Regions from separate parts of the Homo sapiens genome. Here regions 2 and 3 are each reported to be linked to region 1. Evidence: microRNA targets listed by miRTarBase, many of them from high-throughput screens and not tested one by one. Region 1 holds a microRNA gene; each other region holds the end of a gene's coding sequence.

Region 1 (10,535 bases):
AAATACAAATACTTTATAGGGATGTGTTCCTAAAAGAAACAGAAAATATGGAAATGTCCACATGTGCCATGATTGTCCGCAGCATAATACTGCTAGAAAATAATGTGCTGCTTCCACTAATTACTATATCCCCCACTTAGTAATCTCCCTGGATCTAGGTATTGGGAAAAGCTTTTTATCTACAGGTTTTAAAATAAAATTACTGAACATACGCAAATTTTAGGTATAATAATATTTTTTTTTTCAGATCTTCAGATCATTAGATACAAATGATGCTCCTTTAACAGCTATTAAGATGCCCAGTGTGTTTCTTTCAATGGCTTACTTCAATGGTCCTGACCCACATCAATCACTGCCCCTGCCAAAGCCTGGCAGGTCCTCCACCTGCCCACTAAATGTGAAAACCACAGAGACTATCATTTATTGACTAGAGACACATGGGGATCATTAAAAGATACAGAGAGATGACAAGGCATAAAAACTTCATGGTATTTCAGTGATAGATGTCCACAAGAGTAGCTGACAAACAGAATATTTACAAACAAATGGGTCTGGAAAATTATACTACCAAGTAGTGAAACCATAACTCACAATGGCATAGTGACAGGTTAGAACCCCAGGTGTCAAATTTGAAGATGTCTTGGCTGCTGAAGCTTGAACCTCTGTGATACAGGCCTCCAGCTTCCTCTCTGATCTTCTCTGCAGAATCCTTCCCTCACTGCAGCCACCTTGGACCCAACACGTGCTGTGACAATGCCAAGCAGGGCCGGCCTCATGGTCTTTACCCCCTTTTAGTTCCCTGACTGGAATGCTCATTCCATAAATATAATCACTTCCTGCAGGGCTCTGCTCCAGTGCCAGGACATGGGGGAGAGGGTACCCTGTGCACCCAGGCCCTCTCTATCCCTCAGCATGCTCTGTTTTCCTGCTTAGTCCACTGCACCAGACACTGGTTCTACGATACAGAAGTTCACAGAGAAGAAAGGCAAACAGAGCCCCTCCATGGATGGGGATGACCCACACATCAGTTTCTTCACACTGCTGGGACTGCCATCTACATTTAAGGAAGAACAGGCCATGTGCAAGTGACAAGGAGCCAGCCAACCACCTGACCACCACCCCGCTGTCTACACCATCAGAGAGACCACTGTCTAGCCAGATCCAGGTGAACACCAACCCAGCCTCTAGGGTCTCGCTGTCAACTTGTACTTGTGGAGGAATGGATGAGAGATCAGAAAGGGTGTCCAGTCCTAACACTGCTGTTTCATGGGCAACTTCAGGCAAATGACTTAATTAATCCCCACCAAGCCTGCTCTACAGATCTATATAGGCTTGCTTTTTAAAAATGCCACCAGACTCTGATCTAATTCAAAAGCATTTTAAGACTGCATTATGCTACAACATTAATAAAGGTGTGGCTGGGCATGGTGGCTCACGCCTGTAATCCCAACACTTTGGGAGGCCGAGGTGGGTGGATCACCTGAGGTCAGGAGTTTGAGACCAGCCTGGCCAATATGGTGAAACTGAGTCTCTACTAAAAATACAAAAATTAGCTGGTTGCGGTGGCACACGCCTGTAATCCCGGCTACTCGGGAGGCTGAGGCAGGAGAATCACTTGAACCCAGGAGGCGGAGGTTGCAGTGAGCCAAGATCACGCCATTGCACTCCAGCCTGGGCAACAAGAGCAAAACTCCATCTCAAAATAATAATAATAAATAAAAATAAAAATAAAATAATAAAAGTGTTTTAAAAATCCCTTTGAGTAACAGCGTGGACAGAATCAGATTATGCTGAAGAAATAGGATTTTATTAAGGCCAATGAAACCAGTCCTCAGCAAGAGGAGTAGAGAAGATACACATCTGGAAATACACGCAATGCCACCAAGGGGCACACCAGACTCTGCTAGCCACAGGATGGGCAGGATCATTTGTAAATTCCCTGGATAATTTTGCCAGCCAGTTACATTCTGTCCTCCCCCATCAACCCCATACCTTCTTGAGATCCATGGGCCTAAAAAATGAAGGATTAAGTGGTGTGAGTTCTCAGCCAGCCCCCAAACTAACCTACTGTGTGATTTTCAGAAAATTCCTCAACCTCTCTGTGCTTTAGGTGCCACCTAAGAAAACAGCAGCATGCCATCCCATTCTATCTAACAGGTACTCTTTTGCTAATAATGGTGGAAGGTATACTTGGAGTACCATGATGAATCCCTTACAAGAGTTTACCTGGAAGGCATGTGCTCAGGGCAGAGGTTTCCTAAAGATGTCATCAATTCACACTTCCTCTGCTTCTGGGAATAACATTTTCCTTTGTCGGTGTAATGCTGTACGTATTTTTACCACTTAACCCTCCATCACCTTCCCCTAAACTATGGTTCTTAACCTTGATGCACACTGAAACCACCTGGGAGCTTGAAAGTTTCCAATACCCTGGCCCCACTCTTGGAGATTCTGACTTAACTGGGGCTGGGGCTGTGGTGCCCAGAGCTCCCAGGTGATTTTAGCTGGCAGCCAGGGCTGTAAACACATCAAGTGATAAAGGCACCTGCAGAGCAAGGGCTTGCTGAGTGTCAGGCGCCCTTCCAGCTGTGTGATTTTGGAAAGTATCAACTGCCCTAAACCTCAGTTTTCTCATCTAAAAAAATGAGGATAAAAGTTTCACTTCACTTGGTGGTTGTAAAGATTAAAAATCAATGTGTAAAAAAAAAAGTGTATGTATATATATGTGCATTAAGCATTTAGCACAGCACTCAGCATCTGTACATGTTAAATAAACATTAATCGATGTTATAATCAACCTTTCATGGAGTCTTCAGAAACGACAAGAACTCAGGTCCCTGACCTCTGGAAGGCACAGGAGGGAGCTCTGCCCTCCTGTCCACATCACCCTGCATGCCCAGCCTGGGCTGTTCACCAGCACAGAGCAGCAGGGACACCTCATGCCGAGATGAGGGCAGAGGTAAGTCACCTGCAACCATCACATCCTCAAGGTCGGCAGCTCCTGTTAACAAGCACCAACTGGCACATCCAAAACTTCCCAGGTGCCTACAGCAGAGCCACTGTTTCCAGAGATGAGGCAAAGCACTAACAACAATTCATGTAAACATAATAAATGCCAAGTATGTTCCCAGTACCTTTAACATCTCAGTAAGGTTTCTCATCACTTGAGAGACAGCCTCTTTTGTGTCTCCACTTTATAGGTGAGAAAGCCAAGGCTCAGAGGGAGTAAGGCCGAGCTGAGCGCTAAGCACAAAGCTAATGATGGTCACAGAGCAGCCAGGTGGCAGAGCAGCAGTCTTGGCTGAGACGGCACTGTGCTGAAGGAACCTGTTTAAATGATTCATCCTATAGATTTTCCCCCAACGATATGGAAATTTTCCGACCATGATCACAGAAGCCCTCCTTGGACAACACTCAGAAGTGGTGGTATCTCTCAACTTCTGGATTTAATGAAAACAGGAAAACAGGAAGGGAGCTGGGGATATGCGAGGCAATACGATCATGAGGACCAGAAGAGGCTTGGCCAGGGTGGCCATAGGGCAGCATCAGCATTCCCACTAAGTACACTGGAAGCTCACACAAGCACAATTGTTTTAAAATGTGTCCTTCCTGACTATGATGTAGGATATGACTGGATCTCCCGGCCAAGGGAAGTTGGGCCAAAGGCCACACCTAGCTCCTGTTCTCCTCTCCTTTCTGTTGTCAGCTGAGAAAAGAACTGCAACCTAAATCCTCCTGAGGCCACAGCTTGCGGCTGGCCACCAGTCCTATGAGATGGTACAACAAAACCACTGGCTGGATGGGACTCCAGTGGGCCAGCGGGGCCCAGGCTGGCCCCATCCTGGCCTGGCCACAGGAGACAACATGGTTAGAGACTGCTGGCATGCCACTGCAACTAAAATCCATCTACCAAGTAATCATCCCAGAGCAAGTCACTTTAATTTACCAAAGTGGCAAACTGCAATTATTGTTCAAAATGACATTCATTCCTGTATGACAACATTTAATACACTCTAAAAAAAGTTCCTTAATTGCATGCATAATTTAAAATTACTGTAATTTGTTCAAGATCCTGTGAAAACCGTTTTCCCCCCTTGAAAGATAAAAGAAACAGAAGGATAATGAAAAGACTTAAGATTCTATAACCACATTATAGAAATAATTTCGGAGATGGTGTAGATGTAGGTGACACTGGAGTTTTACAAAACAAAGTAAAAATGATTAACTCTTAAAATCGCACATACGTTAAAGAGCAAAGTTTATAATCTCAGGAGGGCCATGCTCATTACACTATTATGCAGTACCTTTAAATTTACTGTCTTAAAAACTTGTACTCAACAGATGTTTCCCATTTACTTATTTCCATATTAAAATAAATTCTATGCCCAGAAATTCATTAACATATGAAAACATATTGCCATTTTTATTCTCATCTTTCTTATGATTATAGAATTTTATTAGTTATGGAGAAGCCGAGAGATACACTCTTAGCTGAAATGAAAGATGAAACAATGTGAGTGATTCGGGGGGAAGACCTGGCTCCCTAAACTGACCCAGGGCTTCCACAGGCAGCCGGGTACATCAGGGCCTGAAGCTGAAAGGCCTGGACACTGTCTCTGTGGCCTTAACAGGCTGCTTGGCCTCTGTGTGCTTCAGATTCCCAGGCTACATGAAATCAGGAAGAAAAATCTACCTTAAAAAGCTGAGTGGAACATCATGACATGAAAGCCACTGACCAAGAAGTGAAGAAGCTCTTGGCTCCACAGAAGGCCATGCTGATACCCTTTCCATAGGCAGAAATATGGATACATGAAACCTCGATGTTTGTTTTTCTGTGTACTTATCTCTATGCATCACCCATCCATGCTTAATTTCCCATGAACTCTGAAGAGATGGTCCAGATTAGTAACGCAGGACACTTAAAAAATCCGTTTTCCCTAGAAATCTCTCTGATCTTTGATTTCTTTTGTAAATTGCTTCCTTATCACATCTGCTGTGAAACAGTCACCACATGTGCTCAGAGCAGCCCTGACCACCCACATCTTCCTGCCAAAGAAAAGCTAAACTTCTGGAAGAACGAGTAATACAGCACCCAAGCCCGTGTGATCAGGGAAGCACATCTTTAGAAGCTCCTCTGCGTCCTCTCACCACCACCCAGGGCAGAGGGAAACAGGGCTGTTGGAGGAACGGCCAGCAGCCGGCCAGGGCTGGGTCTCCGGCTCTCTGTGCAGAAGGTTGCTCACCTTCACGTTGGGAGTATAGAGATTCCTGAGAGAGGCCAGGGCGGCGGACAGCCCCTCGGTGCTGTAGCCGATCCACAGGGCTTGGAGATGGCTTGAAGAAATTCCCGTCTTCTTACTGAGGCCCTGGAAACAATCGAGACAGATCTTGGAAACAATCAGAGACAGATCTGCCTGAGCATCTCCTTCCCACCTGCAGGGTCACTCTGAAAGTGGGTCTGCCGCAGAGGGTGCAGATACCTGCAGAAGGCACGGGGTCACACACAAAGAATGCCTGGACATGCGAGCTTTCACTACCTGAAACCAAGGGTCAAGGAACCAGCCTGCCTTCACTAGGTTAACTTTGTGCCTTGGGAGAGAGATGGCAGATGAGAGTTTCTCTTTGAGTCAGAGTCTTGCTGTGTCGCCCAGGCTGGAAGTGCAGTGGTGCAATCTCAACTCACTTCAACCTCCACCTCCCAGGCTCAAGTGATTCTCATCCCTCAGCCTCTCAAGTACCTGGGATTACAGATACATGCCACCACTCCCAGCTAATTTTTGTATTTTTAGTAGAGACAAGGTTTTACCATGTTGGAAGTAAATTAGAGGAAGAATAAATGACAGAATTAGAATATCACCATCTGAGCCCTGCAAGGTGGAGCGTGCCTATAGTCCCAGTTACTTGGGAGGCTGAGGCGGGAGGATGGCTTGAGTCCAGTAAGCTATGATCCCACCACTGCTCTCCAGCCTGGGCAAACACAGTCAGAAAGTCCAGGTGGTACAAAATCACACAGGTCAAGAAACTCAGGTTCTCGAACAAATCAATAATAAGGAAACAAAAAGTAATGAACAAAGTGGAACCTTTAGATAAAAAGAAACTTATCAGAGATTTAAAGGTGGAAAGAAGTAAAACTTAAGCACAGCACTCTGATATACACTTGAGCAATCAACTATAGCAAAATGCAAGGAAATGCCCAGGCTGAGTCAGAACAGCGGTTACTTTTGGAGAGGGGAGGCAGGAGGAGGTTGCATTTGGGCTGAGGTGCATGGAGCGTTTCTTGGATGGCTGACAGAGCTGTCTAAAATCTCCAAAGCAAAACCTCAAAATGACAACAAAGAAACCCTTCCCCAAGTTGGTGTGCATCTCACCTTGAAAATGTGCGCCTTCAGGATGTGGTGGCCAAGCTCCATGGTCTGCTGGCGGTTCAACTTGCCCTCCTGACGCGAGAACATGAATGCCAAGAGCGCGTGCCCGTTCCTAGGGGAAGGAATACAAAGGCTCACAGCAGAAGAGCCCATTCCACCACACCGCAGACCCACCCTCAATTCACCACCCATTGCCTTAGTCACTGATTTATGCCCGTGACAAAGATGTAAACTCCGGGAGGCTAAGGGTCTCATCTGAGTCATAATGCCTAGCAAAGTGCTGAGCACTTGGTGAACACTCAAATGTGTTTCTGGAATGCATGCATGAATAGACACAGAGCACAGAACCATCCCTGGGCCTAGCCTTCAGGTCCCCTCAGGATCACCACCACTAGGGGTAGACAAAGGACAAGGTCTCACGTGGGAAGGAGAGAAAAGCCAGGCCGTGCTAGGTGACAGCTCATGATCAAGAAAGCAGAGAATTCTAGGCTTGGATGGCACACAAGTCCTTGTGGTGAGAAGAAGGCTAAGGCATCTAAGTGGGTTTGCTGTGGCTGGCACATGGTGGACATCCAGCCAACAGCACCCATTTCCCTTTTGTGAAGGTACCATCCTGCCTATTTTCCTGCCCATTTCCCTTTTGTGAAAGGGCCATCCTGCCCATTTGCCCTCCATGTCCATAGGACTCACTCTGTCTTCCTGTGGATCCCATGCCTTTGAGCCAATTAGTTTCTAAATGACACACAGAGTTGCTTATTCCAATAGGAGTGACTTCTATGCAATGTAAATTACTTTCATTTCTATCATCCTGTCAACTTTGAGCTGTTTGGTTGGGGAAAAGCAGGTAGTTGTGGAGGGAGGAAAAGATAAACATTATATATGTTTTAAAACGCATCCTCCTAGTAGTTGCTAATCTAGATGATTAAAAGCATGCATTATTTAAACTGCATTTGTCTTTCCAGGTGCATGCCTGCTTCTCAAATAGGTTATAAACCGTGTTAGAGATGAGGAAATCAAGGCAGATGGAGGCCAAGGAATCAGTTTTTATACTACAGGGGAGGGCATGACGTTTAAGGCCACACTGCCCACTGAGTCTCGTCCATTGTCTTGTAATGGCCTGAAGTTTTCCCACGAGCACATGCCCTGTCATTCCCTGAACACCTTCCATGTCCCAGATCTTGAGCCTGGGATTCCCCTCCTCCCTTATTCCCATGGAAACCGCTGTCAGCATCTCTCTAGTGCTCTAGGCCCCCAAGGCCTCCCCAGGTCCTACCCATGGGCTGATCCCAGGATTCATTCTGGCCCAGTTCATGTCAGTTGGGAGCCACTCTCCCAACCACAGGCTAAGTCCTCCTAAGTCTCCCAGTTGGCTGAGCTCTGTGGCCAGGCCAACCGTGTCCATCACAAAGACACACTAACTATCACTTTACAGGGTGATGACCACACACCCCTTGGTGGCCGGGCCTAAAGTTTCCAGTGCTCCCAGCTGAGCACAGGGCATCCCACCTCTCTGAGGAGACAACTCCCCATGCCACTGCTCCCCACCTATACTCCTGCATACCCTGCCCATAGTTCCTCCCTGCCCTCCTGTTCTTGAGACCAAGCAATCCCCTTCTAAGACAATCTGCATTCATGATTCTGTTAATTTCCAAAGCTTCCAGGTATCAAGCTCTTACTCTATGCCAGATGCAGAAACCTAATTGAATTATCTCATTTACCTGCACAATCCTGTGACTAAGTACTATGACCCCCATATGCTTATATGAAGAAACAGAGGCCTGAACAGGTTAAGCGACTTATGCAAGACCACATGGCTAGATGACAGAACAGAGATTTGAACTAAAGTTGGTCAGACAGGAGAGCCTGTGCTCTTAACCTGCGGAGCTTGAGTCCTCCATTCATTCACAGCTACACCTTATCACTGGCACCACGTCTGACGGGGGGATTCTATGGGGGAACAATGCAAGGTGCTTCCATTGAGAAGCTCTAAGCAATGGGAGGGGACACGCAAACGATATGCAAGTCAGTTAACTGGGTGCTGTGAACAGATTCCACGGGAACAAAGAGGAGGCAACCTGCCCCGTCACTCAGGCCCCGGTCCCTCCTCCTTACATTCCCAATTTCTCCTTCTTTATGGATCTTTCTCCACACTATCTCTCAGTGATGTTTCTGACAATGTTCCAATCTCCTGTGTTATTAAAAAACAAACAAACAAACAAAACCACCCGCCCCCTAAGCCCTTCCACCTCCCATCCCAAGACGCTGGCTCCCTCCTCTCTCTCCTCTCAACCCAACAGGCGGAGTCTCCTAAGGATCCAGGACCCTCCTCCCTCACTGAAAATCCAATGGCTTCCTCTTAACCGTCATTTCCCTTCACCTCTTGGCAACACTTACATCCGTAAGGTCCCTCCCTGAAACCCTCCTCCACGCCCTGGAAGCCCAGTGCTATCTTTTCTCTAATGACATGAGCTTCCTCACCGAGTCATGCCAGACACCTCTCCATCAGTGATGCTAGATCTTCAACTGTCAGCTTCTCCTCCAACCTGCCGACCCGCCCTGGCGCTGGAACCTGTCTGCCTGGGACAGACGGCTATCTTGCAATCTCAACTGCTGAAAACTAAAACCAGCTCTGTCCCTGCAAAGCCTGCCACATACCACCTGCCTTTCTTACCCTTCCCAAGAGCAATGCCACACCTAGTTTCTGGCTCTTCTTCCTCTACTCTGCCCATGAGGCCAAGCCACAAGAGCTACCTCATGTCAGCAAGGCCCGTCTCTAACCCCAGTCCCCCCAAGTCCCCACTCCTGACTGCTATAGTAGGCCCTATACACTCTGTGCCCTGCACACTCCCTTCTGCCAGCTCTTTCCTCTCCTCTGTTCCATGAAAAAAGGTCAAGTCAAACTAGATTTGCTGTTGCAGAACACGGCCTGCTCATTCTGATGCGACGTCTTCAATAGCTCCTCCTGTCTGCAACAGCCTTGTTCTACCTACTAATACCTATTAACTCCTCGAGTTAACAGAGAACAGAGCTAATAGGGGACTGTTCCAGATGAGACTTCCTGTGCAACCCCAAAAAACTGATGGATCTTAAAAATGGTCATCAGTGGCTTCTAGTGCCTACAGAGACATGACAATGTCATGCGCCTCCTGAGAGAGGTACTCACCACCACCTACTAAGTGTCCTTGTTTAAAAATATAGAATCTGAACAAGCCTCTAAACTTCACTACCAATTTATAGGAAATAGGGGTGAGAGGAACACATGAAAAAACATGAGGACACAAAATTCAGATGATGGGAAACTATACAGGATGAACTACCCAGCTGCCCTTTTTAAACAAATAAATTTTGAGGAAAAAGAAAAAAAGATGAGGAGAGAAACTATAGATTAAGAGAGATAATCGAATGCATTTTATGGACTTTTTGGATCCTGATGTGAACATACTAAAAAATAGAAATTTGAGCATGGCTAAATGTTTAAGATTATTAAGAATTTGCATTAATATTTTAGGTGCAGTAATAGCGTGGTTAAGTATGAAAATATCTCTAAGATGAATATTCAGTTATTTAAAGTAAAATGTCATGTTTACAATTTAACATACTTCAACAAAAAAAAAGGAAACAGATGTAGCAAATATTGCAAAATGTAAATATGTTTAAGTCTAGGTGATATGAATGAAAACTCTTTCTTTTTTTTTGAGACAGTTTTGTTCTTGTTGCCCAGGCTGGAGTGTAGTGGCACGATCTCGACTCACTGCAACCTTCGCCTCCTGGGTTCAAGCAATTCTCCTACCTCAGCCTCCCAAGCAGCTGGGATTACAGGTGCTTGCCACCACACCCGGCTAATTTTTCTTTTTTTTGTATTTTTAGTAGAGACTGGGTTCACCATGTTGGCCAGGCTGGTCTCGAACCCCTGACCTCAGGTGATCCACCCATCTCTGCCTCCCAAAGTGCTAGGATTACGCACGTAAGCCACCGCACCCGGCCAGACTCAAACTATTCTTTATCTTCATAATTCTATTTCTGGAATGCTAACCTAGGGCATAATCAAAACTAAGAGAGAAGAAAGGAAAGAAGAGAGGTAGTACATCGTCTTAAGATCTGATTTAATAGCTACCAGCACTCAGTGAGAAGACACTCATTTTTTATAGATAAGGAAGGAAGGCATGGAGA
Region 2 (10,535 bases), not on the chromosome of region 1:
GACTCCGTCTCAAAAGAAAAAAAAAAATCAGTCATGCCACCAACCACAGCCACTGTACCCAGGCTCTGAGATGGCCCTGCAGAGCTGTCACGTGTCGGTATAGGTCCCTTTGTCACATGTCTACCCTTCTCACCTTGCTTTCTTAGTCCTCCTCTGCCAGAACATATTGATCTGCCTGGCTTTTTCTTTTTTCTTCCCCGAGACATTGTCTCACTCTGTTTTCTAGGTGGAGTGCAGTGGCACAATCCCAGCTCGCTGCAACCTCCGCCTCCCGGGTTCAAGTGATTCTCCTGCCTCCGCCTCCCAAGTAGCTGGGATTACAGGTGCGCGCTACCATGCCCGGCTAATTTCTGTATTTTTAGTAGAGACAGGCTTTGACTGTGTTGGCCAGGCTGGCCTCAAACTCTTGACCTCAAGTGATCCGCCTGCCTTGGCCTCCCAAAGTGCTGGGATTACAGTCATGAGCCACTGCGCCTGGGCTGCCTGGCTCTTCTTGATGCCTACAGAGTATTCCATTGTGGAGAGGGCCTGACATGGATGCCTTGGTCCCTTTGGGTGGCCGGCTTTGGCTGTCACAGGCAGTGCTGTCAGAGGAGCTCAGAGTCTTTGGTCATATGTGTGAGTCCTGCAGGATGAACTTGTAGACCGGGAATTCCTGGGTCATGGAACAAGTGGATCCAAATCGCTGATAGAGCTTCATTTCTTGTCATTCCAGAAGTCACCTGCACCGGTGCCCGTGACGTACGAGCTGCCCACACTGTATAGGACGGAGGACTATTTTCCTGTGGACGCCGGGGAAGCACAGCACCACCCCCGCACCTGCCCTCGGCCTTTGTGAGCTTTGTGGTCTTCCCATCAGGAACGCTGGAAAGTGACATTGTGTACACACTGCAGCTTGGGGGTTTTTTCTTTGTATTGCTGTTTATTTTATATTTTAAAAATATTTAAAAAAATGTCGAGATGGGGTCTCACTATGTTGTCCAGACTGATCTCAAACTCCTGGGCTCAAGTGATCCACCCACCTTGGCCTTCCAAAGTGGTGGGATTATGGGCAGGAGCCTCCGTGCCCAGGCTGCTGCCATTTTCAAATTTCCTCCCTGCCTCATGTGAGACCACAGGGTTTGGAGAAGCAGTTGGAACCCACGTGTGGTGATGCCTCCCACATCGGCCTGCTTGGGGTTCTACAGGGGTTGAGGGACCAGGCCTGGCCGGGGCTGATGGACAGTGGGGACTTTCCTTCTCTCCATGATGGCTTTGCAGGGGCTCCATGGTCCTTCTCTCTGTGATGGGTTTTTGCACGGGGTGTGCTCTGCCACTGTGGTGGGTGGGTGGATGCTGCTTCTGTTGCCTCCAGACCTCGGTGCCCACAGCCTTGAGGATCCTTCCAATAAAGGTGTCAAGAGCTCAGCCCTGGTCTGGTGTGAGAATGACGGGGAGTGATAGTTTCCTTTTCACCTGTGCAGTGTTTTCTAGAAGGTTCCTCCTGTGCCTCACCTGCGAGGGCCTGATCCTGGGCACCTGCTGATGAGGCTCCAGCTGAGGGAGGGGTAGTCCCGGCCTTTGGATTTCCAGCAAGAGTGCAGAGGTCATTAGGACCCCCAGGGTCTTCAAAGGCTTGTTTACCCACATTTCTTCCCATGCAGATGAGTTTCCTGCTATTGTCCTAACACTCCGGATTTCTCACTGTGGCTTCAACCTGCAATGGGTATTTCTGGAATTCCTCGAAGAGCCAAGAACACACACATAATTCCCCTATGCACATACAGGACTGAACTGTAAATCTGCATTAGAATTTCAAGATAATCTGCCTGGGCAAGGTGACTCATGCCTGTAATCCCAGCATCTTGGGAGGCTGAGGCAGGAGGGTCGCTTATGCACAGGGTCAAGACTGCAGTGAGCCGTGATTGTTCTACTGCACCCTAGCATGTGCAACAGAGCAAGACCCTGTCCCCCACACCCCAAAAAAGTTTTTCAAGGAAGCCTAAAATAATGAATCTGGCAAGATAGAGTAGAGGCCAGGTGCAGCGGCTCATGTCTGTGATCCCAGCACTTTGGGAGGCCGAGGCAGGCAGATCGCCCAGGAGTTTGAGACCAGCCTGGGCAACATAATGAGACCATATCTCTACCAAAAATACAAAAATTAGCCTGGCGTGCTGGTGCACATCTGTGGTCCCAGCTACTTGGGAGGCTGAGGTGGGAGGATTGCTTGAGCCTGGGAGGTTGAGGCTGCAGTGAGCCATGATTGTGCCACTGCACTCTAGCCTGGGTAACCAAGTGAGATCTTGGCTAAAAATGTTTTTAAAAATTAAAAACAGAAAAGCAGGGAAATAGTTTAGACAATTTTTGGAATTCAGAGATATAGGTAGACCCCTTGTTTCTGGAAAAGTCAGCATTTTTATTCTCTTTTCTTTTTTTTCGAGATGGAGTCTCACTCTGTCACCCAGGCTGTAGTGCGGTGGCATGATCTCAGCTCACTGCAACCTCCGCCTCCCGAGTTCAAGCTATTTTCCTGCCTCAGCCTCCCAGGAAGCTGGGATTACGGGAGCACACCACCACGCCCAGCTAATTTTTGTATTTTTAGTAGAGACGGGGTTTCGCCATGTTGGTCAGGCTGGTCTCGAACTCCTGACCTCAGGTGATCCTCCTACTTTGGCCTCCCAAGGTGCTGGGATTACAGGTGTGAGCCACCATGCCCGGTCAGCATTTTTTTATTGAGGTGACTTTTACAATTTTTTTTTTCTTTAAATGAGACACCTGTCACCCAGCCTGGAGTGCAGTGGTGTGATCATGGCTCCCTGAAACCTCAAGCTCCTGGGCTCAAGTGATCCTCCTGCCTCAGCCTCCCAAGTAGCTGGGACCACAAATGTGCACCACCATGCCTGGCAACTTTTCAAATTTGTTTTATTTTTTGTAGAGACAGGGTCTCCCTATGTTGTTCAGGCTGGTCTTGAACTTCTGGGCTCAGGGGACCCTCCTGTTTCGGCCTCCCAAAATGTAGTGTTGGCACAAACCTTTATTGAAGTATAATTTATATTACAGAAAGGGGTGCCTAAGTGGTTCACTAAATTTTTCACAAACTGAGTGTATCTATTTAAGCCTCACCAGACTGAGCAACCAACATTATCAGCACTGAGCAGCCCCCTCATGCCCGCTTCTGGTCCATGCCCATACCCACCCCCACCCCAGGCTGACAGCATACTGACATCTAACCATATGGACTGGAGTTTCTTGTTTCTGTGCTCTGTATAAAGAGAGGACACACGGGATGTGTACCTACGGTGTGTCATCTCTTGTCTCTGGCCTCACCGGCTTGATGTTACCTTGGGAGGTGTCACTGTTGCTGTGTCACTGTAGATCATTCCCATGGCTGTGTTGTATTGGCTGGGACTGTTTTTATCGAAGGGAGCTTGGACACTCTGCATGCCCCAGTGTGCTCAGGGAGAGCACACGTTGGATGGAAAGTTGGCCGGGTGAGGTGGCTCACGCCTGTAATCCCAGCACTTTGGGAGGCCAAGGTGGGCAGATCACTTGAGGTCAGGAATTCGAGACCAGCCTGGCCAACATAGTGAAACCTCATCTCTACTAAAAATACAAAAATTAGCCAGGTGCTGTGGTGCACCCCTGTAATCCCACCTACTCGGGAGGCTGAGGCAGGAGAATCGCTCGAATCTGGGAGGTGGAGGTTGCAGCAAGCCAAGATCGTGCCACTGCACTCCAGCCTGGGCAACAGAGCGAGACCCTATCTCAAAAAAGAAGAAAAAGGAGAAAGCTAATGTTAATTTTTTAGACAAGCAGTTGAGGACACTCATTTCCGGAAGGGTGAGTATCTGCTGAGTGTTGGGCACTCCCAGGCTTCTTTCTCCTCCCAGCCCCTGAAACAGGGGCCAGGGAGAGTTGGAAGGAAATCCCATGTGATTAAGCCGCAGCAACGTTGAGTGTCCTAAAGCAGGGACCCACAGGCCCCACGCTAGGAGCATGGCCCTGAGGTTAGCCTGCCTGGCAGCACTGTCCGCTCCCATGCCTCTTAGCTGTGTGAGCTGGGCTTTTCACTTGCTCTCTCTGAGTCCAGCTGCCCCTGCGGTAAGACATGAGGATGGCTCTGGTCTGATGGGTTGTGGTGAGGGTGACATGAGGTGAGCTGTGTGCATGCTGGGCACACTGGCGAGGGGCTCTCAGTAATGGGAGGCTGCTGTTGCAGGGCCCGGGCTGTGATGGGGAAAGGGTTGATTGTCCTGCGTTTCTCAGTTGACCAGCGGCATCCGAGGGCCTGAACAGCGAGTGACTCAGGGACTGCCCTTACGTGTCAGAGTTAGAAGTCATGGGAGAATGGAGGCTGCTCTCTCTGGGTTTCCCTGTCCTGTTAGGAGGGGTGAGGTTGCACAGGAAATCTATGGGGAAAAGGTGACAAGTGAACTGGAAGTAGCCGTTCCAAAGTTCCTAGGATTTGCACTGCCAAACAATGAGCTTTAAGGGACGCTTGGAAACATCTGGGGAGAAGGAAGGCCGGGACACTGCGCCCTGCCATCACCAACCCCTAACCTCAGTCCTCTGAGCGGCTCCACTGTCCCTGTGCCAGGTGACTTCATGTGCGTCCTCATTAAAGCAAAGTGCCTGACATTTCCATTGTCCAGTCAATGATGTCCTCGGTTGCTGACTATTGATGGCCTCTAACCCCTTGGTAAGGGTAACTGCAGCCTAGGAAAGGGTGATCTGATCTTTCTCTTTTTTAAACAGAGACGGGGTTTTGCTATGTTGTCCAGGCTAGTCTCAACCTCCTGGGCTCAAGCGATCCTCCTACCTTGGCCACCCAAAGTATTGGGATTACAGTCGTGAGCCACCGAGGCCTGCCAGTCTTTTTCTTTTGTGGCTGATGTTGGACAGGGACACCAGTAGAAAGGTCACTGCAGATTTCTTCCCAAGAGCAAGGCTCTTCGGTCAACCCCCTTTCCCACTTTCCCAGCGGATGTGAACTTCGTGCTCACCAAAGCAAGAGGTTTCAAGGTAGCAGCCCATGGGGTTGTATCTGATTGGCAGAAATGTGTGGTTTGCCCTGAATTGTTTTAAGATGTTTTCATGTTGTGACAATTGGGTAAACTTCTGGAAAAAATAGAGCTCCATACCTCACTCAGCACACCTGGATTGTAAATCGATTAGGAGCTTAATGTATAAAATGAATCTATTGGCCGGGTGCAGTGGCTCACACCTGAATCCTACCACTTTGGGAGGCCAAGGTGGGTGGATCGCTTGAGCTCAGGAGTTCAAGACCAGCATGGGCAACATAGCAAAACCCCTTCTCTGTAAAAAATAGAAAAATTAGCCAGGCATGGTGGTGCTTGCCTATAGACCCAGCTACTTGGTGGGAGGTGGGAAGATTGCTCGAGCCAGGGAACTTGAGGCTGCAGTGAGCTGAGATTGTGCCACTGCACTCCAGCCTGGGTGACAAAGTGTTACCCTGTCTTAGAAAGTAAAATAAAACGAATCTATTGAAGAAATAGGTTAAAAACATTGGCGAAGTGTACAAAATCGAGAAGCCATAAAAGAGGTCAATTTGATTATATAAAATTTTTAAACTTCTGCATGGCAAAACCAACGGAAAACTCAACCAAAAAATCCCAAAACAACAAAATCCTAAGCAAATTCAAAAGATAGATGACAAATTGGGAAAATATATTTGCATCTCATGCTACAAAGGGATAATCTCCCTAAAAAATGTCACCTACAAAAAAGGGAAACAGTAGCAAAACAGGCAAAGGCTATGAACAGGAGTTTCACAGAAAATGCAAAACATGAAAAGATACTCAACCTTAATGTATGCCAATAAGTATGGAAAAATACCCTGAGATTTTTCACATTTCAGGCTGGCAAGGATTAAAATTTTTGATGACACTATTGAATTTTTTTTTTTTTTTGAGACAGAGTCTGCTCTGTTGCCCAGGCTGGAGTGCAGTGGTGTGATCTCAGCTCACTGCAACCCCTGCCTCCTGGGCTCAAATGATCCTCCCACCTCAGGCACCCAAGTAGCTGGGATTACAGGTGCGCACCACCATGCCCAGCTAATTTTTGTGTTTTTAGTAAAGATGGGGTTTTGCCATGTTGGCCAGGCTGGTCTCAAACTCCTGGCCTCAAGTGATCCACCTGCCTCAGCCTCCTAAAGTGCTGGAATTACAGGCTTGAGCCACTGTGCCTGGTCTTGCTGGTGATATTTTGAAGAAACATATTCTTGTACATTGATGGTGGGACACCATTCTCATGGGGGGGCAATTGGCATACCTAACAAAATTAGAAATGGTCCTAGCTACTCAGTAGGCTGCGGCAGCAGGATCGCTTGAGTGAGCCCAGGAGGTTGAGGCTGCAGTAAGCCGTGATCATGCCACTGCACTCCAGCCTGGATGACAAAGCAAAACCCAATCTCTTAAAAAAAAAAGGGGGGGTTGCGGGGGGAAATGTCCTCAGACCCAGTAATTCCACCCCTAGGAATCCAGCTTACACACACAAGAAAGAAAAGATAAATGTACAAGGTTAGTCACTGCACAGTGAGACAGCAAAAGATTAGAAAGAACCCAAGTGATTATTGATCTGGGTTTTATTCCTTTATAGCCCAACCATATGATGGAATACTATAATGTTGTAAAAATGGGTTAAGAGTTCTTTATGAATTGGTGTGGAAACATCGCCAAGATATGAAAGCCAAATGCAGAAAAATATATGTGGTATGCTATTATCTATGTGAAAAAGACATTACTATTCTCTGGAAGGATAAACACAAATTTGAGAATGGTGGATATCTGGGGTGAGAGGTATCCTTTTCACTGTTCTTTAAAAGTTTTGATATTTTGGTGTTTGCCTATTCAAAAAAATGGTTAAAATCAGTTGCCACCAATTAAAAATTAGGAGAATGCATATAAAGAACTGAATTTCCTGTTTGTTTGCTTGTTGCCTTAAGAATGTGAGCCCACTGTTTTTAGTGCCAGATATTCTAATTTTAAACAATGAGCTACATAAAGTCAAGTTGCTTTGGAGGGGGGGGTCCTGGTCTCCAGGCTTTTCTTATACTCAAATTATTTCACTAATTTATTTCACTTGCCTAGCCCCTGTGGGCATTTGCATTTGAGATCCGTAGAACCAGAGACTCAGACAATGGGAAATTTATTCCAAGGATATGGAGTGTGTGAAGAAATGCATCTCGGTCTCAGCTTAATGTGGTGGAGGATGGCAGCTAGATGGTCACTGCAGTTCAAGCAATTGGCAGTCTAGCTAGCACCTCTGTACCCCAATTCCAAACTCCCTGAGGATGAGGCATGGGGTCCCACTAGAGAAGTGTGTGCTGTCCAGGGCTCTCCTTTGGGAGGTGACTGATACCAGGTCAGACATTGTAAGAAAGCTACACCAATATTCCACAAGAATACAAATGCAAAATCAAGAAAATATCAGGAAACAGAATCCAGCAACATATAAAAAAGGATTATACGCCATAACCAAGCAGGATTTCTTCCAGGAGTGCAAGGTTGGTTTAACATCTGAAGATCAGTGTACCACACCATATTAATAAAGGACAAAAACCACATGATCATCTCAATAGATGCAGAAAATAAGCATTTGACAAAATCCAACACCTACTTATGATAAAAACTCTCCTTCTTGGGGTAAAAAGGGGAGTTCTTGGGAAGGTTAGAAGCTAGACAGGTACCCCACAATGTCTGCTTACAGGGTTTACCAACTCCTTGGAGATGTTTAGTTGACTCAGGCAGCTACAGGTTTCCAGGAACCTTCCTCTCCATCTTAAAGCAAAATCCCACTAAATCCCACTTTGCATTATGGTGAAGAGTGCAAACATCTTTGGAAGGAGTTGCAAGTAGTTCTAATTTCAAGCAGCTGTCACAGAATCTCCTCTCTGAGTTCCCTGGGCTTGCTATGGGCTCAAAAGCCTGGAAATTCTTACAGGTGATAATCAGCTTGATGCATTTCAGGCTTGCAGCAGTAGGAGTGAGTGGAGGGCAGCAGGTCTGAGGCTGGCCTCTGCAGTCTTTGCTGGGCCTTCTGGCAGAGTGTGCTTTAAGGACTGCTCATGATGCTGGGTTTGGAGAAGCAGTTAAGGGGAGGACTGCAGGGGACACAAGCATTATATTTGGTCAGAATGAACATACGGTTCCCCTTAAAAACCAAACCAGTGAGGCATGAGCACCCGAGGCCAGCCTCTTCAACCAGGAGGGGTTTCTCACTGGGCCTTCCACGGAGATGCTCCGTTTTAGACGTAATGGGCGGAGTTTCATCTGGAGGAGCCAGGCCGAGGTGAATGAAAGGGAGGAGACCTGGAGGAGCGGGTCTTCTGTTGGCATCCCCAAGCCTGGTGCTGCTGCAGTGGGGACTCTACCCAGAAGGTAAGGATTCCAGCTTAGGCCACGGTCTCCTTGTTGCCGGGATGAACCGAGGAGATGTTGGGGCAAGTCTACACTCTTGAAATGGTTTTCTACATGCAGGTTGCATCTCTGAGTGTACAGGTTCTTCTTAGGCTGCTAGCAGGTGTTTGTTGAGTGGCGGGGAAAAAGAATAAGTGGTCTCAAAGGAAACTGCCTGGAGCAGACATACTATTCAAGGGAAGGCTGGAGCTTGTAGCCCACGTTCACTGCGCATCCCTTTAAACCAGTTCCGTCTGGGAATCAGCTGGGCCACACCTCAAACCAATTACATCAGAATCTCCAAGCAGGGGAGGGGGAAACTTAGATCACCTGTCTTTAAACCCCCCCAGGTGATTTCAGTATGTAGCCAGGGCTGGGAATCACTTGCTTCCAAAGAATACCAGTCAAGAGATTTTTCAGAACTTGCTTCGTCTTCTGAGTTGGAGCAATTGCACCTTTTATCTGGTTTTCATATGGCACAAGGCTTCCTTTGAAGTGCTGGGTCCTCAGCATCGCTCTGCACCTTCTGAGTGTAGCATGGAATTGGTTTTGAATTGGTTTCCGGTTTTGGGTTGAATTGCTTTCACCCGAGCTTCAGAGATGGGTCCTGACTAGTCTAAGCCAACCAGGGTAATGCTAGCTCAGTGACTGACCAGGTAGCTTTGGACTAAGCCCATCAGCTTAGTCGGATGTTCTGGAATGGTCCAGTTGGCTTAGAATTCAGGATTCTTTCTTAATACTGAATGAAGGGGAAACCTCTCAGGTTAGGTAAGTGGAAGGCACCCTATGAATACCGGGGTGCCTGCCTAGGATGAAGTGTCCCTGTGGGTGGCAGGATGGAGACAGAAAACCTGAATCCTTGGTGATGTCCCTGAGCAGCTTGCCCTCCCCAGACACAGCCAGTTGCCCCCTTGTCACCTTTATTAAGCACCGTCTGAGCTGGATTTCCCGTTACCTGCCAGTGAGAGTCCTAATTAATATAAAAGGGTCTGAGGTTGGGCAAAGCAAAGTGAGTAGTCACTGCTAAAGGAAGCAGAGTTCCCTGAGCAGCTCTTGGAGCCAGAGCCCAGGCTGGGCTTGAAGCCCATCTGTCAGCCCCTAGCTCAGCACTATCCGGCATGCTAGAGGTAGCAGAGTCATCCTGGGATAAGGCGGGTCTGGGCTGAGGCTCATTTTGGTGCTTATGGACCTGGGACCCTGCTCTGATTTTCCTTTTTTTTGAGACGGAATTTTGCTCTTGTTGCCCAGGCTAGAGTGCAATGACACGATCTTGGCTCACCACAACCTCTGCCTCCCCGGTTCAAGCGATTCTCCTGCCTCAGCCTCCTGAGTAGCTGGGATTACAGACATGTGTCACCATGCCCGGCTGAAGTTTTTTGTATTTTTAGTAGAGATGGGGGTTTCTCCATGTTGGTCAGGCTGGTCTCGAACTCTTGACCTCAGGTGAGCCACCTGCCTCAGCCTCCCAAAGTGCTGGCATTACAGGCATGAGCTACCACACCCGGCCGGATTTTCCTTTTTAATAGCGCAAGTCTCAGGCTTGCAGCCTCAGCATGCGATAACAGGTAGCAAAAATCTAATGTTTGTCTTGTATTTACTTTCATAGTCACTTTTATGGTCATCTGAATTTGTGGCAAATTATGGTGATTTTGCTTTTTGGTGACATCGTTTTCCTTTAAAAGGGGGAGTGAGGGTGAGGCATGGTGGCTCACACCTGTAATCCCAGTAGTCGGGAGGCTGAGGCAGGAGGATTGCCTGAGCCCAGCAGGTTGAGGCTGCAGAGCTGTAATCGTGCCACTGCACTCCAGCCTGTGTGACAAAGGAGACCCTGTCCCCCCAAAAAAGTGGTGGCGGGAGTTGAGACATACTAAGAACATAAAGCAGTTGTGAGGCAGATGTGGCACAACTGACAATGGTGGTGGAGTGTGAGTCAGTTTGGGGAACGCTGAGCCAGGGACTGAACACTGTGAGAATGGGGCTCACACATCTTTTCATTCATAGCAGCAGCCAACTTTCTTCCAAGGCCAGTCTCTATCCTAGGCCCAGGTGCATGGTGTGGCCGGAAATACCGGTGGCTGTGGACTCAGATATCCCATGTCCTAGTCAGCAGCTTCCCCTTTGCCAGCTGAGATGTCAGGA
Region 3 (10,535 bases), not on the chromosome of region 1:
AGGTAACTATAGGGTTTTTTTTTTTTTTCAGATGGAGCTTTGCTCTGTCACCCAGGCTGGAGTGCAGTGGCACGATCTCGGCTCACTGCAGCCTCTGCCTCCCAGATTCAAGCAATTCTCCTGCCTCAGGCTCCCAAGTAGCTTGGATTACAGGCATGTGCCACCACGCCTGGCTAATTTTTTTGTATTTTTAGTAGAGACGAGGTTTCACCATATTGGCCAGGCTGGTCTCGAACTCCTGACCTTGTGATCCACCCACCTCGACCTCCCAAAGTGCTGGGATTACAGGCATGAGCCGCTGCACCCGGCCAACTATAGGTTTTTATATTTAAAAATATTTTAAACCGTATGATTGGATTTTGTGATAATAAAGAAAAATTCAGCTTTTAATCTCTTAAAAAAATGAGACTAGAAAATTAATAAGTAAATGTTCTCTCTTCCACCAGAAGTATACTGAATTGTTCAGTGATACCCTATTGGATGTGTAATCAAGTGTGGATTCCTTTGCATAACAATTAGGGCCCTACATTCCTATAAGTCTGTGACAAATTACTCATTGTTCTCCAAGCATTCTTCTGCCTCTAACTTGTCCTGAGACTTAACGCTTCAAAAAACTTTCACTTCTGCCAGTCTAAATCCTGCTCTTCTTTGAAGGTCTGTTTTTAGTTGTTGTTTTTGGAGACGGGGGTCTCACTTTGTCATGTGGGCTGGAGTGCGGTGGTGCAGTCTCAGTTCAGTGCAGCCTCAACCTCTTAAGAGATCCTCCCACCTCAGCCTCCTGAGTAGATGGGACTACAGGCTCATGCTCAGCTAATTTTTGTATTTGTTGTAGAGACAGAGTCTCCCTATGTTGCCCAGAGTGGTCTTAAACTCCTAGGCTCAAGCCATCACCCAGCCTCGGCATCCCAAAGTGCTGGGATTAGAGGCATGAGCCACTGCACTTGGCCTGAAGGCCTGTTTTTAATTTTACTTCCTCTGAAGTCCTCCTTGTGCTTTATTTACATAAAACACTGGAGTAATTTATATCTCCTGTGAGCTCCTATGTCACACATTATCCATGTCAGTCATTTAGCAGTTATTTATGTCCTGTCTAGTAATATTTTTCTTGTTTTTATATTGTACTGTTGTATATATCATAAATTGTTATTTATGTCATACTTCCAAGATAACACTTTTTAAAAACTTCTAATAACAAGACTGGGCCAGGTGCAGTGGCTCACACCTGTAATCCTGACACTTTGGGAGGCTGAGGCGGGCAGATCACGAGATCAGGAGTTTGAGACCAGCCTGACCAACATGGTGAAATCCTGTCTCTACTAAAAATACAAAAATTAGCCGGGCATGGTGGCAAGCACCTGTAATCCCGGCTACTCAGGAGGCTGAGGCAGGAGAATCGCTTGAACCCGGGAGGCAGAGGTTGCAGTGAGCCGAGATCGTGCCATTGCACTCCAACCTGGGCAACAGAGCGAGACTCCATCTCAAAAAAAAAAAAAGCAAGACTGATGTCTGCTATTGCCTAGCAGATTGATGAGTTACATATTATATGCTCAGTAAATGTTGGTATCTTACTGATTGTTTTGAAACATCATTAACAGTTTTTAAATCATTTCGGTTAAAAACAGCAGTACTGATCATGTTTGTATAGAGCTTAATGTAGCCTGCTGAAACTTTGAAGATTAATTTGAGTCTTTCTCTACACAGAGTGAAAAGAAGATAAAGACAACAGTACTAACAGCTGCACTTCTATTGTCGGGAATTCCTGCCGAAGTGATAAATCGATCAATGGATACCTATAGCAAAATGGGCGAAGTCTTCACAGATCTCTGTGTCTACTTTTTCACTTTTATCTTTTGTCATGAACTGCTTGATTATTGGGGCTCTGAAGTACCATGAAGCCTGTAGAACTGAGAAGGAGAAGCTTACAAAAAAAAAAAAATCCTCTTCTATATTGCAGTGTCTCTAAAGGAGGCAAATTGGTTTACACCTTCATGTAATTCTTTTACTTTAGGGGTTGTAAAGCTACTTTATTAGATATAGAATGGCAGATTCTCTGATTTAAAAGGGCTGAGTTTGTATTATTACTGATATGAAGAATAGAGTACCAATGTCATTAATTGATTTTTCTTGTTAATCAGAATTCCTATTCTGTACCTTTCCTCTAACTTCTCAGATTTGTAATTCTTCTTTTGGGAGCTGAGCTAGTGCTTTTAGGAGAACAGATAAATGTGGTCTCAGCCAGCCCTAGAGACTGCTTCTTGTGTTTGTGTCATTCTGTCCTGAGAAATGAAGTCATCTGAAAAATAAAATGAAAGAAACTGAATTGTCTAATGTTAACTCTGCACATTGTAACTTTTCTTGTTGAGTTAGTATCTTAATTTTTACTCCAGCACAAGTATTTAATCAAAGAAAAGATTCATACATGTGAAATTGGAAGGTATTTATAAAATTTTTATTGCTGTATACCAAACTCAGAATTGGAACTTTTTACATTTGAGTTTCACTTTTTAGAAGTATGTTTTAAGCAAGCAAAAACAAAATGGGATGTGAAGAATTGAGGCATGCAACCCAATAGCATAAATGTCCTTTTTCCCCCCAAATATGGTCTAGATGAGTTATTATAAACATTGTTTTTATTTTTTTGAGACAGAGTTTCGCTCTTGTTGCCCAGGCTAGAGTGCAATGGCGCCATCTCGGCTCACCGCAACCTCCACCTTCCTGGTTCAAGGGATTCTCCTGCCTCAGCCTCCCAAGTAGCTGGGATTACAGGCATGCACCACCACGCCCAGCTAATTTTTATATTCTTTAGTAAAGACAGGGTTTCTCCATGTTGGTCAGGCTGGTCTCGAACTTCTGACCTCAGGTGATCTGCCCACCTCGGCCTCCCAAAGTGCTGGGATTACAGGCGTGAGCCACTGCACCTGGCCTTATAAATATCCTTTTAACTAACTCAGTAACTGCCATATTTTGTTGGGTTGTCTTCTTAAAAGAATATAAGACTAAAGTGTTAATGTCACTTGGTGTTACATTTCCTTACAGATTTTTGTATAGTCTAATTTGGTTAATCCTTGTGACATTAAAAACACATACACTTTTTAAAAAATTACTCTTTAAGTCTTGATTTCTGTCATTTCATTTTGAACCAGGGTAATGAAGAATAATTTAAGTCTATTCTTCTGATTTGGGTGAAAGATTATAAGCACACATTTTTCCTGATTCCATAATGAATCTAGTATCTAAAGGGTTGTAAATCATCCTTAAAGTTGTCACTTCCTTAATCGCTGAGAAGATACTAGTGGTCTTCAATTGCACATTGCACATGTTTACTCTTTTGGTGCTTTTTTTTTTTTCCAAACAGTGTTTACCACTGTTGTCCAGGCTGGAGTGTAGTGGTAGCACAATCATGGCTCACTGGAGCCTTGATTGACCTCCTGGGCTCAAGCAATCCTCCTGTCTCAGCCTCCCAAGTAACTGGGACCATTAATGCCTGGCTAATTTTTTGATTTTTTGTAGAGACAGGATCTTACCATGTTACCCAGGCTGGTCTCAAACTGGGCTCAAGCAGTCCTCCTGCCTTGGCCTCCCAAAATGCTAGGATTACAGGTATGAGCCATTGTGCCTGGCCTACTTTTCTTTCTTAAAAAAAAAAAATCATTTAGCCAGCTGACACATGCAAAATTTTAGTAATTGTAGATCATTATCAAATTTATATTTTGAAGACAGTTATAAGATATCTGTATCTATTGGTGCCATTTTTTGTCTTTAACTGATAGGCATCTCCCTGATCATTTGCTTGATTTGTTGAATAATATCAAGTAGAAATGAAAGTTTTTTTTGTTTGTTTGTGTTGTTTTTTTTTTTTCTGAGACAGAGTTTCGTTCTTGTTGCCCAGGCTGGAGTGCAATGGCACAATCTCGGCTCACTGTAGCCTCTGCCTCTGGGGTTCAAGCAATTCTCCTGCCTCAGCCTCCCGAGTAGCTGAGTTTATAGGCATGCACTACCACGCCCAGCTAATTTTGTATTTTTAGTAGAGACGGGGTTTCTCCATGTTGGTCAGGCTGGTCTGGAACTCCAAAGCTCAGGTGATCCACCTGCCTCGGCCTCCCAAAGTGCTGGGATTACAGGTGTAAGCCACTGCGCCCGGCCTGTTTTGTTGTGTTTTGTTTGACAGTTTCACTCTGTTGCCCAGGCTGGAGTGCAGTGGCATGATGTACAACCTCTGCCTCTCAGGTTCAAGCAGTGCTCACGCCTCAGCCTCCTGAGTAGTGAGTAGCTGGGATTACAGGCATTGCCACCATGCCTGGCTAATTTTTGTATTTTTAGTAGAGATGGCGGTTTCACCATGTTGGCCAGGCAGGTCTCAAACTCCTGACCTCAAGTGATCTGCCTGTCTCAGCCTCCCAATTTGCTGAGATTAAAAGTGTGAGGCCGGGCGTGGTGGCTCACGCCTGTAATTCCAGCACTTTGGGAAGCCGAGGCGGGCAGATCATGAGGTCAGGAGATCGAGACCATCCTGGCTAACACGGTGAAACCCCGTCTCTACTAAAAATACAAAAAATTAGCCAGGCATGGTGGCAGGCACCTGTAGTCCCAGCTACTCGGGAGGCTGAGGCAGGAGAATGGCATGAACCTGGGAGGCGGAGCTTGCAGTGAGCCAAGATCGTGCCACTGCACTCCAGCCTGGGCGACAGAGCAAGTCTCTGTCTCAAAAAAAAAAAAAAGTGTGAGCCACTGCAGCCGACCTGAAAGTTTCTTTTTTTTGAGACAAGGTCTCACTATGTTGCCCCTGTCGGAGTGCAGTGGCATGATCAGGGCTCACTGCAGCCTTGCTTTCCCAGGCCCAAGCAATCTTCCCACCTCAGCCTTGCAAGTAGCTGGGACCACAGGCATGTGCCACCACCCCTGGCTAATTTTTGTTTTGTTTTTTTCAGAACAGAGTCTCTGTCGCCCAGGCTGGAGTGCAGTGATGTCAGTCTCAGCTTACTGCAGCCTCTGCCCGCCCCCCGGGCTGGTTCAAGCGATTCTCATGCCTCAGCTTCCCGAGTAGCTGGGATTACAGATGCATGCCACCACATCTGGCTAATTTTTTGTATTTTTAGTAGAGACAGGTTTCACCATGTTGGCCAGGCTGGTCTCGAACTCCTGGCCTCATGTGATCCACCCACCTTGGCCTCCCAAAGTGCTGGGATTACAAGCGAGAACCACTGCGCCTGGCCTGGGAATTGAAGTTTCTTAGTGTTTGGAATAGTTTAAAACGTTTTTTATTTGGAAATTTCTGGGTTTTGAAATGTATATGGACTGGCTGGGCACCATGACTCATGCCTGTAATGCCAGCACTTTGGGAGGCCGAGGCGGGTGGATCACTTGAAGTCAGGAGTTTGAAACCAGCCTGGCCAACATGGTGAAACCCTGTCTCTACTAAAAAAACCAAACCAAAACAAAAAAAAATTAGCCAGGTGTGGTGGCGGGCGCGTCTGTAATCCCAGCTACTCAAGAGGCTGAGGCATGAGAATCACTTGAACCCGGGAGGCAGAGGTTGCAGTGAACTGAGATCGCGCCACTGCACTCCAGCCTGGACAACAGAGTGAGACTCTGTCTCAAAAAAAAAAAAAAAAGGTATATGGATTAAAACTAGAGGGACAAGGATGGTTGTTTAGAGGTGACATCTTGACCATGTAACCTAGTAGTTTTTTTAGTTCAATTAGTTGTGTAAATGGACATGTGTCATCACAGTTGGCACTAAAAACAGCAAGTGGGTTATTAGATATTCAATACTGGGTTAGTAAGTCAAGTCACAGTCAAAATCTGCTGCTTTGGAAAACAGGTTAGTTTACTGAAAGTGATGTATTAGAACACAGACTATAGTCATTTCTTTCACCTATCTAAATAGATAAAATCTTCCAGCCTCACACCTGTAATCCCAGCACTTTGGGAGGCCGAGGCAGCAGATCACCTGAGATCGAGAGTTCGCGACCAGCCTGACCAACATGGAGAAACCCCGTCTCTACTAAAAATACAAAATTAGCTGGGAGTGGTGGCTCATGCCTGTAATCCCAGCTATTTGGGAGGCTGAGGCAGGAGAATCGCTTGAACCTAGGAGGCAAGGTTGCAGTGAGTCGAGATCGCGCCATTGCACTCCAGCCTGGGCAACAAGAGTGAAACTCCGTCTCTAAAAAAAGAAAAAAAAAAGCCTTCCTCCAGGACAGACTTGATGTGAATTTACTATAAATATATTGTGGTGGAGTGGGGGTGGTGCACACCTGTAATCCCAGCACTTTGGGAGGCCAAGAGAGGCAGATCGCTTGAGACCAGGAGTCCAGGAGTTTGAGACCAGCTTGGGCAACATGGCGAAACCCTCTCTATGAAAAATACAAAAGTTAGCTGGTGGGGTGGTGTGTGCCTGTAGTCCCAGCTACTAGCTACTTGGGAAGTTGAGGCACAAGATTCGCTTGAACCTGGGAGGAGGCTGCAGTGAGCCGAGATCACAGTACTGCACTCCAGCCTGGGCAACAGAACCAGGCCCTGTCTCAAAAAAAAAAAAAAAAAAAAAAAAAATATATATATATATATATATATATATATATATAAAATATATATTCTATATATATTATATTAATGTAATATTAATTAGAATATATATTATATATATAAGAAATATTTAAGCCAGTTAGAATTGTCTTGTTAATGTGTTGTCTTAAAGGGGAGTTGGAAATAAAGTATCTTGAAGACAGCTCTGGCCTAAGTGTCAGATCTCTGGACTCTAGTTCCAGGTTAGATTCCAACAAGGTTAGTGATCTAGGATGAAATATGTTTCCTGAGTCTCAGTTTTGTTACTTAAAATCAAGAAGTTTGAGTTTGTGATTTTAAAAATCTATAACATTAATCCCATGATTCTTTTTATTATTATTTTTTGAGACAGAGTCTCGCTCTGTCGCACAGGCTGGAGTGCAGTGGCGCGATCTTGGCTCACTGCAACCTCTGTCTCCCGGTTTCAAGTGATTCTCATGCCTCAGCCTCCCGAGTAGCTGGGATTAGCACGCACCACCACACCCAGCTAATTTTTGTATCTTTAGTAGAGACATAATTTCACCATGTTGGCAAGGCTGGCCTTGAAGTCCTGCCCTCATGTGATCCACCCGCCTCAGCCTCCTAAAGTGCTGGGATGACAGTCATGAGCCACTGCATCTGGCCCTAATCCTGTGATTCTAAGCAATATTCAAATTGTGTTAATTTCAAAAATTAAGGACTTATTTCCATTCACTTCTGCATGGCCTCATCCAGTCCATGGCTTCAAATACTGTGTATTATACATTCTATAAAATGCTGAGGACCCATATCTCTCCCGCCTCTATTTGTAGCTGTTATTTCCTGGATGTCTAGTAGGCACCTCAAATATCACATGACTGAAACAAACTCAATGACTTTCTCTATTTCCTCCACTAAATCTGTTGCTTCCATGCTTTTCTCATCTCCACAAATTCACCACAGTCCACAATAGCTCTGTTGAAAACCTGGCAGTCATCTTTTATTCCTTCCTTTCCGTCATAGCTCACATCCAGTTTATCTATTGGCGCTTTGAGAGCTGCTTCCAGAATACACCCAGAATCTGATCACTTCTCAGTCTTCATTGTTTAAGCCACTGGTGGTTTTCTATGTCTTTTAGGTTGAAATCCACATTCCCTACCTGCAGCCCACATCCAAACAATTTACAGGGGGATTCCTAACCCTCCTTGGTGTCCATCCTGTCACTCATTAATTAGCTCAGGCCTTCTTACCCTTGGCATGGACTGCCAGAACCTCCAGTCTCTATCCCTCTTCAATGCTTCTCGCAGCTACCACAGGTGGGCAGCAAGCCACGGGGGGCGTGGGGAGCATAAACTCATCTTGGAGTGTCACTCGTTGGTTTGCTTTTTTTCTTTAATCAACTATGTTGAGGTAAAATTTACATACAATAAGTCATGTACAGTTAAAGGGTACAGTTCAGTGAATTTTGAAAAATGTGCAAATCTATTCAATGACCACTAAAATCAAGACACAGAACTTTTCCATCATCTTTAGGTGTAAGAAAGTAAAATAGTACAGAGGCAAGTAAAGTAAAAATATGAGCCTTTCTCCAACTCCATTATAGCTTTTTGCAAAAACAACTCAACATGGCCGGGCACGGTGGCTCATGCCTGTAATCCCAGCACTTTGGGAGGCCGAGGCGGGCAGGTCTCCTGAGGTCGAGAGTTCAAGACCAGCCTGACCAACATGGAGAAACCCCATCTCTACTAAAAATACAAAATAAGCTGGGGTGGTGGTGCATGCCTGTAATCCCAGCTACTTGGGAGGCTGAGGCAGGAGAATCGCTTGAACCCAGGAGGTGGAGGTTGTGGTGAGCTGAGCTCTCACCATTGCACTCCAGCCTGGGCAACAAAAGCGAAACTCCGTCTCAAAAAAAAAAAACAAAAAAAATTCAACATTTCTGTGTGTGTTGCATGAGACAATACATATACATTTTTTTGGTGCCCAAACTCTCGAATAATGTTCTCAATCTTGACTGTACTTCAGAATTACCTGGGAAGCTTAAAAATTCCCAGTGCACAAGAAGCACTCCAGGCCAATTAAATCAGAACATAGGGGTGGAACCCAGGCTTCTATTTTATTTACTAATATTTTAGAGATGAGATTTCTCTGTGCTACCCAGGCTGGAGTCATCATAGCTCACTGCAGCCTCAAACTCCTGGGCTCAAGTAATCTTCTTGCCTCAGCCTCCCTGGCTCAAATGATCCTCTCACCTCAGCCTCCCAAGTAGCTAGAACCACAGGCGTGCCAGCACACCTGGCTAATTATTTTGCTTATTTTTTGTAGAGGGTCTCGCTATGTTGCCCAGGTAGGTCTTGAATTCCTGGGCTCAAGCCATCCTCCTGCCTCGGCCTCCCAAAGTGCTGGGATTATAGGCATGAGCCACCATGGCTGGCCCTTTTTTTGTTTTTTTGTTTTATTTTTAAGCTTCCCAGTGCAAGCAATGTTGAGAACTAATCTTTTGCCAAAGTATTTTTAGCTCTTTGTTCTCTACTAGGTTAACACCTACCGGGTCTTCAAATCTCACCTCAGAGTTCACTTCCAAGGGAAACGTGTTTTCTGAATCCGTCTCCAATGGTGGACTCTCCTTGCTGTATTACTTCTGCTTGTGTTTTTAGTCAAGTCTATTATTATTACTATTTTCTTTGCAGAGACGAGGGCTACGTTGCCCAGGTCTTGAATTCCTGGGCTCAATAGATCCTCCCGCCTCAGCCTCCCAAAGTGCTGGGATTTCAGGCGTGAGCCACTGTGCTGGCTTTAGTCATCTGTTTCCCGGATAGACTGTGAGCTCCCCAGGATCTAGCACAAGCCTGGCATATGACAACATAAATAAATGAGTGAATGTATACATGAATAAAGAGCGTGTACGGAGAAAGTTGCCGCATTATTTAGCGCAAATTAAGGCAGACATCAGCCTGCCCAGGACGCCTCTTTGGCTCTGGCGCGAAACACCCTCACGGGCCGGCGAGGCTGACGCGCTGCGCTCCATCGCACTAATCAGCCGGGCGTGGTGCGGGCGCCGGGAAGACTGGGCGGGGCGAAGGCATCACCTTTCGATGGGGCCGGCGCTGTGCGTCCTCCAGTCGAGGTGGGGCGCTGTGGAAGAGCGGCAGCTTCCGGTCGGCTTTTCTCTTCCTTCGGCTGCCGGCGCCAGCACGTCCTGTTTTCGTTGGCCGCGCTGGGATGGCCGCCACAGCTGTAGGTGCTGCTAGTGTTTAGCGCTGGTCTTTGCCGGGCGTTGAGGGCAGCTCAGCCTCCTTGTTTGTCCGGTTCGCCTGTGCGTGGTACTCAAGGGCACCAGTATTCCCGCGGTCGGCAGCATGGGTCGGGAGTCACGGTGAGGCAGAGCGCCGAGCGGGCTAGCGGGCGAGCGGCTTCTTGGGGTCGTGAGAAGAGGCGGGAGTTGAGGTGGCCGCCGGGCCAGGCCTGGCGCGGCCCCACGTGCGGTCAGCGCTGCCCCGCGAGCATTGGAAGGGCTGGGGGACCTCGGCTGAGGGAATGGTTGTGTTTGGGCCAGCGACGGCTTCCCCTGCACTACCATCAGAGGGTTCGAGCCCCTGGAGCGGGAACAACCCTCCAGGACGTTAGTGATTGGGCACCACATCCCGCCACTTCAAGGGAGCCTGCCCTGATTACTTCAGTCAGAAGTGATCCCAGTTGGATTGCTTATTGCTTCGCGTTTCCAACATTTCCTCGACTCCTGTCATTCTGTATTTTAGTTCTTTGTGCGCGTATGATCTTTTCCCAAGTTACTTGAAAGGAGCGTGTGGGCAGACATTTTTACCGCATCGACAGCACTATACACGACTAGGCTTTTACTGGGCTACAATAAATACTTGTTGCGTGGGCATTTACTTCGCAAATAGATTTCGTATTTAAGCAGGTAACTTTGTTACCTGCTTTTCTGTCCTTTTGAAGTTGTGGACTATGAGCTCTTATTAGAACTCATTAGATCTCATCACAACTTTAGATTG

What was found. Region 1 holds the annotated microRNA hsa-miR-6888-3p (AUCUGUCUCGAUUGUUUCCAG, at 5,367-5,387, opposite strand). A microRNA usually pairs through its seed, bases 2 to 8, with sites in the 3' UTR of a target mRNA and lowers its output. Matches are read on the target gene's strand: a 7mer-m8 pairs with bases 2 to 8, a 7mer-A1 pairs with bases 2 to 7 and ends in A, and an 8mer does both.
Region 2: miRTarBase lists BCAS4 as a target of hsa-miR-6888-3p. The part of its 3' UTR that is shown has no 7-base or 8-base seed match.
Region 3: the mRNA of CAMLG is a reported target of hsa-miR-6888-3p. Seed matches in the 3' UTR shown: 7mer-m8 at 2,642-2,648.

What each region holds. Positions count from the first base shown.
Region 1 is chr2:159,181,733-159,192,267 of GRCh38, reverse strand. MIR6888 (microRNA 6888) reads right to left here and starts at 5,433; the gene lies at 5,367-5,433. It overlaps TANC1 (tetratricopeptide repeat, ankyrin repeat and coiled-coil containing 1), which reads right to left. Exons shown (of 27, transcript NM_033394.3): 15 at 6,369-6,477; 16 at 5,244-5,366. RefSeq lists a cis regulatory region at 6,581 and an enhancer at 6,497-6,666.
Region 2 is chr20:50,875,771-50,886,305 of GRCh38, forward strand. BCAS4 (breast carcinoma amplified sequence 4) reads left to right here. Exons shown (of 5, transcript NM_198799.4): 5 at 716-1,407. The coding sequence ends at 838. LOC124904929 (a long non-coding RNA gene) reads right to left here and starts at 241. Exons shown (of 2, transcript XR_007067647.1): 1 at 1-241. RefSeq lists enhancers at 371-951, 3,610-4,111, 4,112-4,611.
Region 3 is chr5:134,749,058-134,759,592 of GRCh38, forward strand. It overlaps CAMLG (calcium modulating ligand), which reads left to right. Exons shown (of 4, transcript NM_001745.4): 4 at 1,702-3,100. The coding sequence ends at 1,893. DDX46 (DEAD-box helicase 46) reads left to right here and starts at 9,722. Exons shown (of 23, transcript NM_001300860.2): 1 at 9,722-9,898. The coding sequence starts at 9,882. RefSeq lists an enhancer at 9,497-9,986.